2 separate regions of the Homo sapiens genome follow, and region 2 is linked to region 1. The links come from fine-mapping of genetic effects on gene expression. A gene starts in region 1. The other region holds a variant in brackets. All regions are shown on one strand. Distances are between the middles of the regions.

Evidence for each region.
Region 2: its variant is fine-mapped to the expression of PAK5 in nucleus accumbens (GTEx, PIP above 0.99).

The regions. Positions count from the first base shown.
Region 1 is chr20:9,835,082-9,843,917 of GRCh38, forward strand. PAK5 (p21 (RAC1) activated kinase 5) reads right to left here and starts at 3,995. Exons shown (of 10, transcript NM_177990.4): 1 at 3,681-3,995.
Region 2 is chr20:9,176,454-9,185,289 of GRCh38, forward strand. All of the region lies in intron 2 of PLCB4 (phospholipase C beta 4), which reads left to right. Among named protein-coding and RNA genes, the nearest start is that of PLCB4, 110 kb to the left of the region's middle. RefSeq lists an enhancer at 3,777-4,392. The variant C/T (reference allele first, on the strand shown) is at 4,117.

The DNA.
Region 1 (8,836 bases):
CTTTCTATACTAGAAAAGAAAAACCTTCTAAAAATCAGATCTTGAAGTTGGCACAGGAAAATGCTATGAGGCAGAGTATTCGTTCCTTCACTCATTCACCAAAAGTTCATTGAGCACCTTCTGCATATAAGACATAAAATAAATGGCCATTATAGAGCTTACAGACATAGCCAAACAAACAGGCATTTGCAAACTGGAATAAGTGCTGTGGAATAAAAGTGAAAGGATGATGAGAGAGTTGGGTCGGTGGGGAAGAGAGATCAAGGAAGCCCAAGGGATGAGTATGACCCAGACTGGTAAAATATAGAGGGAAGATGGTTGGGGATGTTCCAGAAACAGACAGAGGGTCAGTGTGACAGCATCAAGAGGAAGAGATGCACAAGATGAGGCTGGCCAAGTATCAGAGGCTCTAGGAGTCTCTGGAATCTGTCCCAGGTGTGTGGGTGGTATTTTATGTAGGGAACTGACATTATCCTCTCTGCTCTGGATGAAGGATTAGAAGAGCCAGGCAAGGAACCAGGGGTCTTGTTAGGAAGTTATTCTAGTGGTCCAGGTAAGAGATTATCATCTCTTGCAGTTTGATAGTGGTGGTGGTGGGGATAGAAATAATTTATCAAGATGTATTTAGAGATCTATAGAGAAAATAGCATTTATAAGACTGCATGATGGTTTTAAATGTGGAGGGTCAAGGGAAAGGAGGTGTCAAAGGTGATTCTTGGGTTTCTGGTTAAAGCAACTCGATGGATAGTGGTGCCATTTACCAGGTTAAGAAGGACTAGAAAGTTGTTAGCTTGCCTTTGTTGCTATTATTGTTTTTGTTATTTAATGCATTTTGGTTTTTTTGCATTTGTTTGGAAGGTTAGCAAGAAGGATGGAAGGCAACATCAACAAATCAACTGGGGGCACAGTATGTTTGAGATACTCTAGAAGATCCAGGTCCTGGGTTGTCTTGGCTCCCAGGTAAGTGACATGCATAAATGAGGTACTTTTGAACCCTGCTCTTCCCTACCATGGTTGTGTATATAAAGCCTCAAATAGGTTAGTTCCCTTAAATAATCTTTAAAGTATTTTCTGAATCCATGCTACTCTATCTTTACCTCTTATGCTAACATAATGTTAATGTTGTCATCAAACACAGTTCATAGGGATGTTGGTGTACTGGGCTGAAGAGTGTCTCCCAAGAATTCATGCCCATCCAGAACCTGTGAATATGACGTTTAGAAATCAGGCATTTGCAAATGTAACCTGGTTAATTTGAGGTCATATTGAATAAGGAACAGGTCCTAAATCCAATATGAATGATGTCCGTATAAGAAAAGGGAAATTTGGACACAGGGACAGAGACAGAGAGGAAGATGCCATGTGAATACAGAGGCAGAGATTGGAGTTATGCTGCCACAAACCAGGGAATGCCTGGGGCTACCAGAAGCTGGAAAAGGCAAGCAAGGATCCTCCCTTAGAGGTTTTGGAGGGTGCATGGCCCTGACAACATCTTGATTTTGGACCTCTAGCCTCCAGAACCATGAGAGAATAAATTTCTGTGGTTTTAAGCCACCCAGTTTTTGGTAACTTGTTATAACTGCCCTAGGAAACTAATATAGTTGGGAAATTTAAGGGAATTAACATGTTTGAGCCTGAATCATTATATAGGGCACATAGCATAGGTTCAGTAAATATCCATTTCCCTCTTACTCATAACAGTCACCACCATTTTCCTGGTGGTTTAAATTATGATTAATCCGTACATCTACTCATCTAGATAAGTCTTACTATTCCGAGGACTGTTCTATAAGTGAGGAAACTGAGGCTTAGGAAAGTTAAATAATTTTCCCAGAATCACAAAGCTAAACATAGAAGAGTCAGAGTTCAAACACCTGCCTCCCATACCTACAGCATTTCAGCAGGTCCTGACAGAGTGGAGAGGCACTGCCAGACTAGATTTTCAATGCTTAGATATCAATTGATTCAATGCTTAGATATCAATTTTCAATTAAACTCACATTTATTAATAAAATAACAAGCTGCAGAGACCTAGTACAATCTCTACCCACTCACAGAAGAACACTAGGTTTTTAGTCTAAGGCCAGCGTTACCAAGGAACTTGCCATTGGCTTATATTGCTTCCATTTAGCAGTGCATCTGCCTTGCACATATGTATTCCAAGTCAAGGTATTATCAGATTGGACATTTATGGCTTTAATTTACTTAAATGCATTTTCCTTATGTATTCCCCCACTTCATTTTGATGATACTGACTCATTCTCGCCACCTAACAAGACTATAAAAATAAATAGTGTGAGTGCAGAGGAAACTGTCTCCAAACTTCATATGCTAAGATGCCCATCCTTTAAATTATAAAGCAAAAAATAAACCCATGCTTTAAATTTACCTTTCTCCCTAACTAACCTGGTTATCTTTCTCCCCAAGATTGAGTTGTTGTGCTGTTGAATATAACAGATACACAAATCTAAGGTGGCACAGCTGTTATTATAAGGTGTCAATTTCATAGAATTCTAGTGTAGGAGGGACTTCTAAAAAGCATCTTGTCCATCTATATCAGGTAAGAGAAAGAGTGTCTACAGCCTCCAAGCCCCAGAAGAGAAGCGGTTGCACTAGAAGATTTTTGTGAGTTACCTAAGACCCTGTGGCTATGTCTTGGTAGAACTCCGTAGAATGCCAGGTTTCCTGATTTTCCTAAAAGTGTGTTCAGTCTTTCAAGCTGTCATCAACTATTAACAATGACACTTTCCTCTGGCTTTGTGCCAACTTTTCTTTTTGTTTATTATTCTGGCCATAAAAAGACCACCATAAATAGCCTCAGCGTTTCAGGTTCCCTTAATTGATATCTAATGTTGACAAATTAACTCAGCCCGAGTTGAAAGCTCCATATACACACACATGGTTTCAAGAAGGGCGATCGCGCTTATCCTCCAAACTGAGCAGTGATGATCCCTGGACTTCTCAAGTTTACCCTCTAGGAGGCTGACATGGCACACAATTTTGACAAGAGTTTGGAACCAAGATCCTCTTCCACGCCCTGCTCACAAGGGTGCCCACAAGCAGAAGTTCTCTCTCTGTCTCTCCATTACAACCCACCAGGCGCGCGCGCACACACACACGCGCGCACACACACACACACACAAATAACAAAGGAAAACACAGCCTCATAAAGGCTCAGCTATTGCATCCTCCAGTCCACACCTGCCAAAAGACAAAAACCATGCGGGAATCCTGCTCTGGCAATATGTCCAACACTTCTCGGGAAAAGCAGCGCCGTGGCACCCCCAGGGCGTGCGCTGCTGTATACACACAAAGAACTGGTGCTGGGCTTGCGAGCAGTTCGGGGTACCAGCACGCTCTCAGGGCTGGAATCCGGGGTTCTCCTCCACGCCCTCCCGCCCAGCAAAATGGAACCATCCTTTATTTGGTTGGTAGAGAGCCCAGGCTGGATAGTAGCGCATGGGTTGAGGGTGGGCGGTCCCCTATCCCTACCCTCCAGGCAGCAGGTCCCTAGCCTTTGCATCTCCTAGGAGATGCAGGATCGCGCTGTCACAGTGGTCCTCTTCGCATCCTCTCCCGGCAAAGAGAGATGCTCCGGTTACCAGCGGCGCGCATCCCCGCAGGCGCCTCTCCTCTCGCCGATACCCACCCAGGCAGTCCCGACAGGCGCGCCTGCCTACCTGGTGGCCGGCTGTCAGCGAAGCGGCGGTGCCTCAGCCCCTTCTCAGCTGCTACAGCGCTCCCAGCGCCATGTTCCCGGTCTCCCCGGGCGCACGCTGGGGAACTACTACTGGCTGGGTAGGGGCAAGGGGGGCGGGGGCCAGCGGGAGGGGGTGAGAGGCAGAGCCACAGCTTTCTACTCTCCACCCAAACCTCCCCCAGCTACTGAGCATGCCCAGCTGCCCGGCTTCGCCCCTCGGAGGACTGTCCATGAGCGTACGCAGCTGCTCCGGGTTTTCGTGGCAGCCGGCGGGAGGCAGGCTGTAGCGGCGGCCGGGGGTGGAGGTGAGGGGGAGGGTCGGGGGGCGTGTCTACACTCAGGGTGCAGGAGCCAGGAGCCGGGAGCTGGAGCAGGCGACCAATCCAATCACGTTTACTCCCAGTCGTCCCCGGCGGGGGCAGCTCCTGCACGCCCTCTCCCCCAACACTCGGGATTTGCAGAAATGTTGTTCAGGACCATTGCAGGATTGAGTTTTGCTTAAGAGGCTAGCAGAGGTGGGGAGGAGGAGGGGCTGAGAAGCAGAACAGTGGGCTGGCCTCTTTGCCACCACCTGGACCGGTGATTCTCAAACTTTCATGTGCCTGTGAATTAAAATGCAGATTCAGATTCAATTGGCTGGGTCCTGAGATTCTGCAAGCCTAACAACCTCGCAGGTGATGCTGCTGCTGCTGGCCCTCCCACCACTCCGAGTAGCAAACATCTAGAGAACCCCTTATCTGTGACCTCTCAGTGGCCATCCTTCAATCCGCCAGCCTAGCAATGGTCTCTGGTGTCCACAGAGACTCCTCCAGCCTGGGGTTGCTGAGCCTTACCTGGAAGGAGTGTTTGTGGGGCTAGGCTGTGACCACCCAGCTTCTCCTTGGCTGCTGTCTGATTTCGAATTTAAGGCCCAGGGGAAGAAGGATTCCTGGACCTTTTCATGCTCACTTTGCTAGCTGGCTAGTAAGCCAGTTGCTGGATGAGCTGCCCCGGTCAAGTCTGAACCAGTCTGCCTTGGCTGTCCCCTTGCCTTTCCTGAGCTGGGACAAAAACTCAGACTGGGCATCAAAGTGTTTATTGTACATCTAATAGCAAGCTTGGGCTTGCCTAGTTAAGAAAGCCGACAGATTATGACAAACATAGAGCGCATTTTTGTACCAAGAGATGTCAGGCCTTTGTGTTCAGTGATGTTTGGGCTGAAGTTTGCAACGATATTTGTGGTTCAACTTAAACTTCCCAGTTGCCTACTGCCCTCCCAGACTCTTGAAGTCTCCAGCATTATCAAGACTCTAGTGAATGAAAGACATTCACGAAGTAGTCCTGAGTTTTCACCCTTGGAAATGAAGAAGCCACGCTCTTGTCTGTCTTCAGCTGCCACAAGAGTACCCTTATGAGCTAGTAGTGGATATGGAATCTGATCCCATAACTAGATAGCAGGTTACAAAATAAGGATTTGTATCTCTCCGTTCCTTATTATACTCAATGACCTTAGACAGTTTTCTAGCTAATAGTATAGTAGTTATCATTTCCCCTTGCTTGTTTTCCATTCACTTAGTACCTTTAATATTGTACTGGCCATATCAAAACAGAAACCACAGGATAAATGGATGATTACTTTTCTCCCTCAGTAGTCCCATGTCCTTGTGTATCATACTCATCTCTTCCTTCTCAAAGCTGCACACAGCCCTAACAACCTACCCACTGCCACCATCGTCACCCCCACAACTATATGCATAAATATTTTCTACTTTTGACTTTCTTATATGTGTGCTCACATAGATGCAAAAGCCAGAACATATTTTTACTGAGATATCGTTTATTTGTCATTGGTTAGTATCAGTTAAAATTTTTATTTGAAATATTGAACTTTAATCACTTAAAATAGCCTTCCTGTTATACATAAAGTTTGTGTTTGTACATTTGTTTCTGCTAGTTAAATATGATGATGATTGTTAGCTGCCTCAAATTTATTTTGGAAGCGTGCAAGGTAAAAATTATAGATGAATAATAATGCTATTTCTGTAAATACTGCATTGCATGAATTCCTAAGGGTTTTCTTTATATGTAATGCCATTTCTTGAGGGTTTAGCCTGCAGTATTTGACTAAGGACCAACATCTGTGGGTGGGAGGGATACAGGAAGCAGGAGCAGGCAGAGGTAGAAGCTAAGCTGTGATGCAAGCCAATTGCAGCCTTTGTCAGCCCCTTATGGAGCTCACTAGCTAGGGTGATCCTTCAGAATGACCATGAGTTGGTCTGAGATAGTCAGTCCTTTACATCCACATCAATCATTGAGCATGGGCTGTTCCTAGGAGGGGCACGAACTTAAGACAGGCAGCTCTGGCAATTCTTACAGGTAACAACAGCTAAAGGCCTCTGTCAGCTGTAGTCCCTGTGGCTGCAGTAACAAATCCTTCACTTAAGGGGAATTTAGGCAAAACATTCCTTTGTCCACCACATTGATGTATTTATTGAATACAGCACTTTTGAACACACAAAGTAGAACTCTACTGATTTGTCAGACAGATTTTAAAACTTTATTTTTGAATAAGTAATAGACTTTCTCTCTGGCTCAAAGATTTAAAAGTTGGAAAATAACCTGTAATCAGCCATTGAGAGTATACTATCTATTTAGGTATCTGGCTGTATGCATTTTTTATATGACTAGTTTAATTATGATTTATTGAGCAGGCATGTATTTATTGTCTACCATTTAAGACATAATTTTCTCTGTCAAAATCTGTATTTGTAATTTGTAATGGGGTAGGAATAAGTGTTTGATAGTAAATAGAAGTGTGTTTTTCAATAAAACAGAGCTACTGACTAGTCAAGATTTCATGAGAAACTAATGTCAACCAACCTTGTTGACACCAAAAACTGTGACAAGATGAACCTGAGGGGTGGAGAACTTGGTAGATTGGCTGACAGGGATGTGTAAGACAGCATGCTGGAACCCAGGTTCAGACTACCCAGCTCATTCTCTTTACCTTCTCCAGGCTATGCATCTACAAATGGCTGGAATTCTTGAAAGATGAACCGCAACCATAAGGGAACCAGCATAGATTCTAGAAATGAAGCAGGACATTTGCTCAGATAGTGGAGGTAGGGAAAGAATAGGAGGTGGAAAAGAATGTTCCAAGGAACATAAACAAAAGCATATAAAGAATAGGTCTCTAAAGAATTCCCCCAAGGAAACAGAAAAAAAAGTTCGGACAAATATTTTTTCCCGAGTTTCAATGGAATGAAAGGCAATATAATCTGAATAATGTTTTTTAAAAGCACCATAAAGAAATATAAGGATTTAAAGACAGACAATAAGACTAAAATGAAAGATAAACTAGCAGAGTTCAGGGAAAAATAAAAGCCATTAAACCACTCAAAAGGTAAGAGACTAAGGGCCAGGCGTGGTGGCTCACGCCTATAATCTCAGCACTTTGGGAGGCCAAGGTGGGCGGATCACTGAGGTCAGGAGTTCAAGACCAGCTTGGCCAACATGGTGAAACCCATTTCTACTACAAATACAAAAAAATTAGCCGGGCGTGGTGGTGGGCGCCTGTAATCCCAGCTACTCAGAAGGCTGAGGCAGAAGAATCACTTGAACCCGGGAGGCAAAGGTTGCAGCCGAGATTGCACCACTGCACTCCAGCCTGGGCGCAACAGAGGGAGACTCCGTCTTACAAAAAAAAAAAAAAAAAAAAGAAAGAAAGAAGGAAAGAAAGAAAGAGAGAATAGGAAAAAAAAACAGACTAACCACTGAAAACACAGTGATAAATAGACAAGTACTTAGCTACTAACAAATAAGTATAAAACAAATCATAGACCATTTTTATGAAATACAAACAAAGGAGATCCAACACATGTACAACCAGTAACATGCAGGAGCTGGCTTGCACCAGCTTGCAAGAGCTGATTGGGCATACGTACTGCTTCCTAACTCCATTTTCAGTAACAGCTTGAAATCAGCCACTGTGGAAGTATTTACCCCACACAAATGGACAAATGCTACAAATCAGGGTTTTGTTTGTTTGTTTGTTTTCAGACAACTGGTTATTACATATCTACCAGAATACCACTTTTTACAACCTTTGCTGTTAAAAAAAAAAAGAATAAAATGGAAGAGAAAAAAATAATCAAAGATGTAATAGAAACACAAAAGTTAGTTTCCTGAAATAGAGAGTGTTAGATCAGCAGAACAAAAGAACACAATTGTCTCAGGGGAAAAAAAAGAATCAACCTGGAACAATTAACCCTAAAATATATCCTACTGAAGTTACAGAACTTCAAAGACAAATAATGTTCTGAATATCCAGACAGAAAAGGCAATTTACATATAAGAAAAAGAAAGTCAGTGTGCATTTAGATTTCTTCACTCTCATCAAGCAATGCCTGAGGGTGTTCTGAGGGAAAGAAAGGGTGACCTAAGAATGTTTATTTTCCTACACTGGTGTTCTTCAGATTTTCAAGGCAACAGTCAATTGTTCTCAAATGCAATAAATCAGTATACACAGCAGAAAAAAACCTTTATAATATTCTACTTCATTATCAAATTTATACAACTAAGAGATAAATTTAAAACATAAATCTCATGAACGATGAAGCTGTGGTCAAATGTGATAATGATAATCATATTTATTTTAAAATAAATCTAAGACTAAACCACTGGTGTTTGGCAGTTTTAAATCAGAACATAAATATAAACCTTGACAATGTCAGTATCATTGGATAACTTACTAAAATCTGAAGGTAGAAAGAAGGGAGTTGTAAGGAGGTTTAAGTATAATGATTTCCTCAGCAAGTGGTCAATGTATATTATTAAAGTTGCCGCAGATAGATAGAAAACCCCACCTCTGATCTCATCATGCTTTTTTCTTACCTTTAAGGGAATATGTTTCAAACTTATCTCTCTATATGAAAAAAAACCGTTTTCTGAAGTTGAGAGATTACTGCAGGCACATTTTAGCTTCTTTTCTTATTTAATTTTAATAAGATTAAATACAATTTAGTTTTAAAGTAGCTTCTGTGCTATCATCCACATATGGATGATACTTGAAAAAGTATATCTGTCAACTTATCCTACTTGTTATAACCTTATATTTTTATCTCTTTCTATACAGGAAGATTTATGGAATATTATAAA
Region 2 (8,836 bases), 660 kb before region 1:
CCAGCAGTATCTGAGTATTTTCACTAGGCCATTTTTACATGTATTATCAGACAAATAGAAAAAAACCTTAATTTTATGTTGATATCTACTGCATATTTATTTACATTATGCACACATATGTAAATGTATATACATACACACAAACAGGGAAATGTATACATATTTTATTATATCATATGAAGAAGCACCAGTTTTCAAAGTAAAATATAAGATCTTACTTTATGCATAAAATTCCAACCCATGAGCATATACACAAAACCCTTAAACTACATATAAGTAATTTCTGTGTTTTCCTTAGTGTTTGTTTACTTTAGTCATTTGCTGGCCATTACTGACAGTCAAATAGCAAACTTTTAAGAAAAATAATAGAAACTCTAACATGAGGAAACTGTTAGAAGCTTTTTTCCCTCTGACTTGGGAAAAGATAACTGCCACAATTTTGGGGCTGTGACTTCTGGTATTGTATCATGCAAAGTTTAAGAACTTCTGGGATAAGCAGTGGGCAAAGGGAGTGCAAATGGAGGAAACTGAGAAAGAATGATTATATAAGGAGCAACAATGATGGACTGGTGGCGAAGAAAGAAAGATTTTTCAAGGAGGGGTGGTTGGAACTTGGAAATCAAATAAGGAATCAAATGAAGATGGAACCCATGGCTGTGGCCCCATGGAGACAGAAAAAGTCAGATTTATACACAGGTCATTGTGACACTAAGCAGAATGTGAAAAAATATATCCAATAGAAATAAAAGCAGCATGTTAGTAGGGGCAGGAGAGCAGAGTAATAAAAATAACCTCGTCTCTATATATGAAATGCTGGAATTGCTGAATAGTGTTCCTGGAGTGTGGGAATAAACGATGTGGTTGAATGGGTTTGGGTTTGTTTTACAGATTTTATCCTAAAGATATGATAACTAATTAAACTACTGCTGTTAATTTGTGTCGAATACCAAGCAGAGCCTCGGGACTGGACTGAGACAGGGCCAAGGTGCTGGTATAAATTTCAGTGACTCATCTCTTGTGTCTAAAATAGCGGTAGGCTTGGGGGCAAAGTATAATCAAGGGAGGAAGTCATTTTGACACATGTTCCCCTTGAAAGCAACTTAGAACCAATGTAAGTAATTCAGTTTCTCAAGCTAGTGTTGGAAAAGGGGTGTAGATGGATAAGGGTGGGAAATGGAAAGTGAGCTTGCATCAAGTCATGAAAGACATTGTGTTGTATGCAAAGACGTTTTGATTTGATCCTACTTGTTTTCAAGATGACTTTAGGCATACACTTGGGCCTAAATGAAAATATTCTAATGGAATACATGCAAGGGCTCAGCGATTCTTAAGGGATTACTTTCCATGTTTTAAACTTTTACGTATACCCTTTCTTAAAACTGATCTGCCTAACACCTGCCTGTCCTCATCTCATTTTGTAGAAGGAAGATACTTATCTCATCTTTCCAAAATATTAATATGGTACATTGTCCTATGGTATAAAAACATTCCAAGTGCTAAACAGAAAAACACCGTGTTCTGCAACAAAACTGTGCTTAAAACATATTTGTATCATCAGTTGATAAATCGTTAAAAATAATTTTGGCCAGGCCAGGTGGTTCATGCCTGTAATCCCAGCACTTTGGGAGGCTGAGGCCAGTGGATCACCTGAAGTCAGGAGTTCGAGACCATTCTGACCAACATGGTGAAACCACGTCTCCACTAAAAATACAAAAGCATTAGCTGGCTGTGGTGGCGGGATCCTGTAATCCCAGCTACTTGGGAGGCTGAGGCAGGAGAATTGCTTGAATCTGGGAGGCGGAGGTTGCAGTGAGCTGAGATTGCACCACTGTACTCCAGCCTGGGCAATAGGAGTGAGACTTTGTCTCAAAAAATAAATAAATAAATAAATAAAAATAATTTTGAATTTGGATCACCTTCTGTGGTGGCATAAAACTCAAAAGGAGTTCAGAGATTGAAACTTTTCTTAGGGCAAAAACATTTTATCAGCACTTATGTGAAGAAAAATGAAAAACTGGAATAAAATTGATGGTAAAACTTTGTTATTTTAGCATTAAGTAATATTCATAGATGTATGGATTAATTTTTTAAAAGCCCTATCCATTTTATCAAAAGATATATTTCAAGTAAAGTTTTATATTTAATAATTACTAAAATTATATTAATATTTATGATATTTATGTGGTTTTTGTCAATTGCCTACCAGTGAAAACTTTAGTATAACTTAATTAAAATACATTATTTCACCCTTAGGGGCTAAATTCAAAGTAAATTTAAACTTAAAATTCTAAATTATGTATATATTTTGTTGTATATAGGGATATATGATAGATCAATAAAATACTTTTAGCCACAAAAATGTATTCATTAGGATAAAATTTTGCAGGGGAGGTAGAAAAGAAATAGAAAAAAGGCATTATAAAACATAAATGTTAAGTGTGAACTTGCTTATTTTTAAATAATTTTGGTGTTTACATTCTAGATACATTTAGGTATATCTAACAGCTATTATGTTTAAATTGTCAACATTTAGAACATTCTAGAAATTATATCTTTAACAACCCTTTTGAACTTATGATAAAAAATGAAGATAACTTAAAATTGACTTTTGGTGAGTTTTTCTAGATTTGTCTAGAGGGGTATAGGCACAGATTTTTTGAGGACCACAATTATGGGTAATGGGATATCACTGAAGGATTTTGAATAGGGGACTGTTTGATAAGATTGGTGGCTTTGAAAGGGTATTTTTCCATTGTGCAGGTGGATAGGGTGGCACATAGAGGTTGGGGTGATGGTAAACCAGGAACAAGTAAAACAGTGAGGAGAAGAGAGAGGGAGAGTTCAAAGCATGAAAGGGAGCAGGAGACTCAATATTGCTGGCTTCAAAGGTGAAGTAATAGGGCCATGAGATTCCTTGGCTCATGGCCCCATTACTTCAAGGAATGTGGGTGGCTTCTAGAAGCTTGAATGACAATGAAATGGATGATTCCTCTAGAGCCTCCTTAAAGGAAAGAAGCCTTGTTCCCATCTTGATTTTAGAGGTGAGATCCATGCTGCATTTCTGATCTACAGAACTGTAAGATGACATATTTGTGTTGTTTAAAGCCACTAGTTTGTGAATTTTATTACAGGAGCAATAGAAAACGAATACAGCAGATTTACCCAGGTTTTCCACTGAGGAAGGAGATGAGTCATTTGATACTGAGTTAAGTATGCCAAAGGTTGGCAGTCTAGACTTGTGGGCATTTTAGCCTCTTTGAGTACATGCTTGTTTTAGTGAATGAGAGAAAGCTGTTATGAAGGAACATTTTATATGAACTTGCTTGTTTTCATTTCTCTACACCTCACTGTCCTCTTCCTCAAAGCTAGGGGTTAGAATAGATTATCTCAGGTTCTCTTCAGCTTGAAAATTCTAAAATTATTTGCCTTGCATAAAATGAAAGAAACAAAACACACCACTATCCCCATAAAATTCCTTCTCTGGTGAGAATGAGGGGAAAAAAGGAGAACCACCTACAAGAATTATTGGTAAAAACACACATAGAATTCACTATAAAACACAAGCATGTGCTGTGCTTCAGATGCCTTGTTTAGGAATGTTTAGTTCTAAATGCTAGACATAAATCAACATATGTTCTGGAATTTTCATGATGAAATCTCTCACTGTGCATCAAAGTAAGAGAAATAGAAAGTTCTGAACAGGAGCATGTATTGTCCTAACAATCTTGTGGCCCCAATATTCATCATAATAAAAATTTTTCTGCCTTGGTATTATTATGGATAGTAATTATTATGGATAATAAAAATGATGGTGTATTAGTCAAGATCGGCTAGCTTATACTCTGACAATAAACAATTTCAAAATAAAAAAGACCATTAGTACTCATTGTTCAGCGATTTAAATCTCACAAGTAGAATCAGCCTCTTGATGGGGGATTTTTCCATTATAAAGCTGGTGCTACGATCTGAATTCTGCAAATTGGGGCATTTATTAGTTAGTGATCATATGGGATTGGTCTATGGAAGGATGCATGCTGAAGTCAGTTCTTTAGGGCTACATCTTGCCTAAACTCAGTTTAGCATGGCTGGTGTTACAACCCTCAATTCCTTTCTGCA[C/T]AGGGGAATAAGTAATTTCTGATATAACTGCTGCCTTTCACACAAAGGTGGGACTCTTGCTAAGCTGCTAGAGTGCAGTCAACCTTGCCACAAAGACTATGCAGATGACTTCAGTGTTCTCAATTCCTCCCTTGGTTGAAGATCACATTCACGCCCATTTCACCCATTCAAGGACTTTCAGGTGCAAATTTTGCAAGAAAAAGCTCCTCAGATTTCCCAAGAATCATCTCATTAGAAAGGAGTTTGGAATGTGATTCTGTCTGGATGCTATTTCTGTGATACCTTGAAAACTTTGTTCCTACAAAATTATTTAAGCATTTGAGCACAAAAATAAACAAATGTCCTTGAATTTATTATCCCATATGGGCTTGCCAACTGCTACAGTGAGACTTGTGGAGATGATAAGTCCCCTGTGAGTGAGGCACTTAAGCTGCAGGACCCATATGTTGTGCCTGATTGTAATGCAGAGAAAGTTCTTTGGAAACTATGACCTTAACCAAGCTTTGAATAGCTGACCAAGATAAAGCCATCAGAGATGTCCTAAGGGTTGCCATTCATAGAGGGTCATCAAAAGTCTTTGGCCTCATGCACTTTGTGCCACCCTCCTCACTAACATTCTATTCATGATATTAGTCTTTTTGAGACCTCCCAAATGGTGCTGATCTAATTCATTTCTGCAAACAGACTTCAGATGTTATGAGGTGTCTGTCAGATGAGGCTCAGGGTACCAAGCATTGTTTTTGCTTGCCATATTGATCACTGTTAAAGGTGTATCTGAAAGTAAGTCTTGATAGTCCCTAGCAATCAAAAGTGTTTCCTCAAGTCCTAATTTTTTAGGTGTTTTTCCCTATACCTTCTGAGTCTCTTACTTCAGGCTGCTATCACAAAATGCCATAGACTAGGTGCCTTATAAACAAAAGCCATTTCTTACCGTTGTGGAGGCTGGAAGTCCAAAGTCAAGGTGCCTGCAGATTCCGTGTCTGGAGAGGGCCCTCTTTCTGGTTTGTAGATGGTCTTGTCATTGTCCTTACATGGCACTCAGGTCGGGGGGATGGTGGAGGCAGAGTGTTTGTCTCTGTTCTTTTATAATGCTGTAAATCCCATCATACAGGCCCCATCCTCATGACCTAATCCAACTCTAATTACCTCCCAAAGACCCCACTTCCAAATACCATTACACTGGGGATTGGGGCTTCATTATGGAAATTTTGGGAGTGGAGGACACAAATGTTCAGTCCCTAGCAATCTCACTAGGACAACAAAGTGAGACAAATAATTGTTCTGTAGAGCTTCTTAGAATAACACCAATACAGTCTCCCAAAAGAGAGAAAGAAGATCAATAATAGGGGTTCTAGGAAATTGCTTTCAGACCTTGGGCTAATTTTATGAAATGATTTTGAGAAAAGGAAGGGCAAAGTGAGTAATAGATTTTAGCAACAGTCATGAGAGTGGGAGTTGAGAGGGCGGTGTCTGTTTTGTTGTTCTTTGTCCATAGCGTCTCACCTATAACCTGGCCCGTGGAAAATGTTCAAAAAATAAGTTTTGTATAAATGAATTGATCATTAGCTGGAGTGGTTTTATAGCAATAAGAATTACCTTGTTGAAGAATTGGTTCTTCTTTGCCTTTAAATGTCTTCAGGTTTGGGCTCCATTCTTGTAGCTAGCTGCTGACTATTGGTTTACCCCATGTAAAGTGAGTAAAGGGTTGAGGGTTTTTTCTTATCCTTAGGCTATCAATCACCTGCTTCTGGGGCTCTCACAGTTAAAAGAACTCTTTAAAGTTGGCTGTGCTGGAAGCTACCCATTATACCAGGCTGAAGTGTCTACGGGAGGCATGTTCTTCGTTTTTTGTCTAAAATTGAGGGTTTTGGGGAATTTGCTCAATCATCGCTAGGCCTAACTCAAGTCTCAGTAACCCGGGAACCTGTGAGCTATTACAGAAGATGCATCTGTAGTATTTACTGAGTGCATGGATGGGTGGTTTACAGACTTCTCCTCAACAAATAGCAGGGCTGTAATAGCAAGTGACAGGGAGCTTCTGGCAGAGGTAGAGATTGAAGGGCAGGTGGTTGGCCTGTTGTCTCTAGGAAATGAACTCCCAGCTCAGGCGCCTAGGACATGGGACTTCGGATTTTTAAACTGGGACTAGTTGGGTCACCCAGTGCTGAAACCTTGGCCCTCTGCCGACAGGCTAAGGGGCTTCCTGGTGTAGCTCTCCCTTCTCAGCTGTCTCAGCCATGTCCTTCCCATGCTCTGAGACACCACCAGCAGCAACAGTTTGGGGATCATGTGAAAGAAAAGTAATAAATACCTATTCTGTTTGGTCACATCTAATTGCTCATTTTCATCATATTTACAAGGAAGAATACGCTTACAGGGCCTGAAGCTACCACTCAGTGACTTCAGGATTCAACGTGTCTTTCTGCAGGGGTCAGGGAGTCACGCTGCTCTGCCTCACAGCACAGCTAGGAAGAATCTGTCTGTGTCTATTAAACTACAGGGAGAGCACCATTTGAAATCTCCCCTGCCCCGGAGGATGTTGTCCAAACATAAGTGGTGTCCCAGAGTTTTCTCTAACTCTCCAGCCCAAGTCCCTCTTACAGCCCAGGGAAGCCTGGGGCTCACCTATCTCGTGAAAATGTGCTGTATTGTTGGTGTCCCAGCCAAGGTACCCCAAGCATAATGGGGTAACTCCAGATTGGGTCACTAAGCCCATCTCCCACTACACAACGGCCACATTTCCCTCCCTCCCTCAGTTAGTTCTGGGGAGGAGGAAGTGATGAGGGCTGGTGAGGCTTCTCCAGAACAAGATGGAGATGCAACTCTAAAACCAGGTAGAGCGGGAGGCATGGGGGAAAGGGCTGTGATACCACAGAGGACGTAGAAATTTTTTTCCATCACCACACATAAGAAAGAAGAAAAGCTGCTAGATTTTTAAGTTTCAGTTTTGGAGTAGTATCAAAAAGGACCATCAAGCTGGAGATATTTATTTAGATAAGAATGCTGGTCTAATTTATCATTATTTTCAACTTCTCTTGCTTGTAGTTATAATTAGTGATAAGTAATATTTTAAGTGTTTTTTAATGGTTTTTGGAAATATTGTATACAGACGTTTAAAGTTGTATACAAATTGAATTAGGGAAAATGGAATCTCACTTTCCTGTTTGTATGTGTTATTGAAAAATATTATTTTAATTTTACATCAGATATCTTGATACCTCACTGGTATTAGGCTGAACCATACGAAATTGCTGTTTTTGTTGATCAAAATGATTAAATATTAGTTACTTCATATAGCTCATTGTAACATATTTATACCCTGGGTCTTTATAACCAGAGACAAGTGGATTAATCTATGAAGCTATTAAAAAATTCTATAGTAAATATATTTATAAACTGAAGAATCTGCTTTAACGTGAGCTACTTTCCCTGCACTATCAGTTTTTGCAAGTTTACATTTTTTTCCTGCAAAAAGAGGCAAAATTAATTTTAAAAATCTAAAGCCATTGGAAGGTACCAGAAGATGGGACGTTTCAAAGAAGGAATTAAATTGAAGGTAGAAGGCATCCTATTTCCTACATTGACTTCAACCCCCACCACCTTCTGCAATGATTCTGAAGGCGATCCTTGCTCAAAGGTGACCACCTCAGTATTGTGGTCATGGGAAAAAACGGAAAAGGGATCAGCATTCTTTAGCTTCTTTTATGGCTTTATTTCAGCTGGGTTTTCAAATTTTACTTGAGTAGATAGCTTTATTTGGCTCAGAATGAGTCAAAGTGGTTTTTTGGTGAATGTTTCCTTTACCTTCATAAGCACTTTCTTTAAAGTTCCAGGTGAAACCCCCAGCATGGTGGACACTGTGTCGTGATGTCATTGCAGGTGCTCTATTTGAGAAGCCATCCATGGTTTCTTCAGTTCTAGAAATGCTTCAGATTGATAACATTACTATGCTCATAGGTTTTATGTTGTTTTGAAATTAAATTAATATAGAAAGGAACCATTTGAGGGTGGTGACCCAGCATTGTGCCTCAAAAAAAAAAAAAAAAAAAAAACCTCTGGTTTTTATGATTAGGAGGCAATTTTTTTTTATTCAACTAGTTTTGACTCTTACGGAAATAAAACATCGCCACTATGAACCGATTTATGAGCTGTCAGGTGATCTTATGTGTTGTATACATATAACACACGCATCTAGGAGCTGTTTTAAAAATCTTGACAGTTGTACATTCAATTTGTGTAATGCTAGCCCTACTGTAAAATACTCTAGTTTTTTTGTTGGGACAGAACCACACCTAAGTGAAACTTGCAGCTAGCTGCCCATCTGCCCATGAATAGTTTACTACCTATTTATGTATTTATTTATTTTTCAGACAGGGTCTCACTCTGTCAGCCACCCCGGCTGGAGTGCAGTGGCACAATCATAGCCCACTGCAGCCTTGACCACCTGGGCTCAAGCCATCCTTCTGCTTCAGCTTCCCCAGTAGCTGGGACTACAGGTGTGTGCCACCATGCCCCACTGGTAGGGGTCTCACTATGTAGTGCAGGTTGGTCTCGAACTTCTGGCCTTGAAAAATCATACTGCCTTGGCCTCCCAAGTTGCTTGGATTATAGGTGAGAGCTACCACGCCCAGCCTAAGACTTTGCTTCCTTGTGGAAAAACTCCCTGGAAGGGAATCCCATATTAAATAGCAGGTGCTAAATAGAAACCTAGTGTTTGACT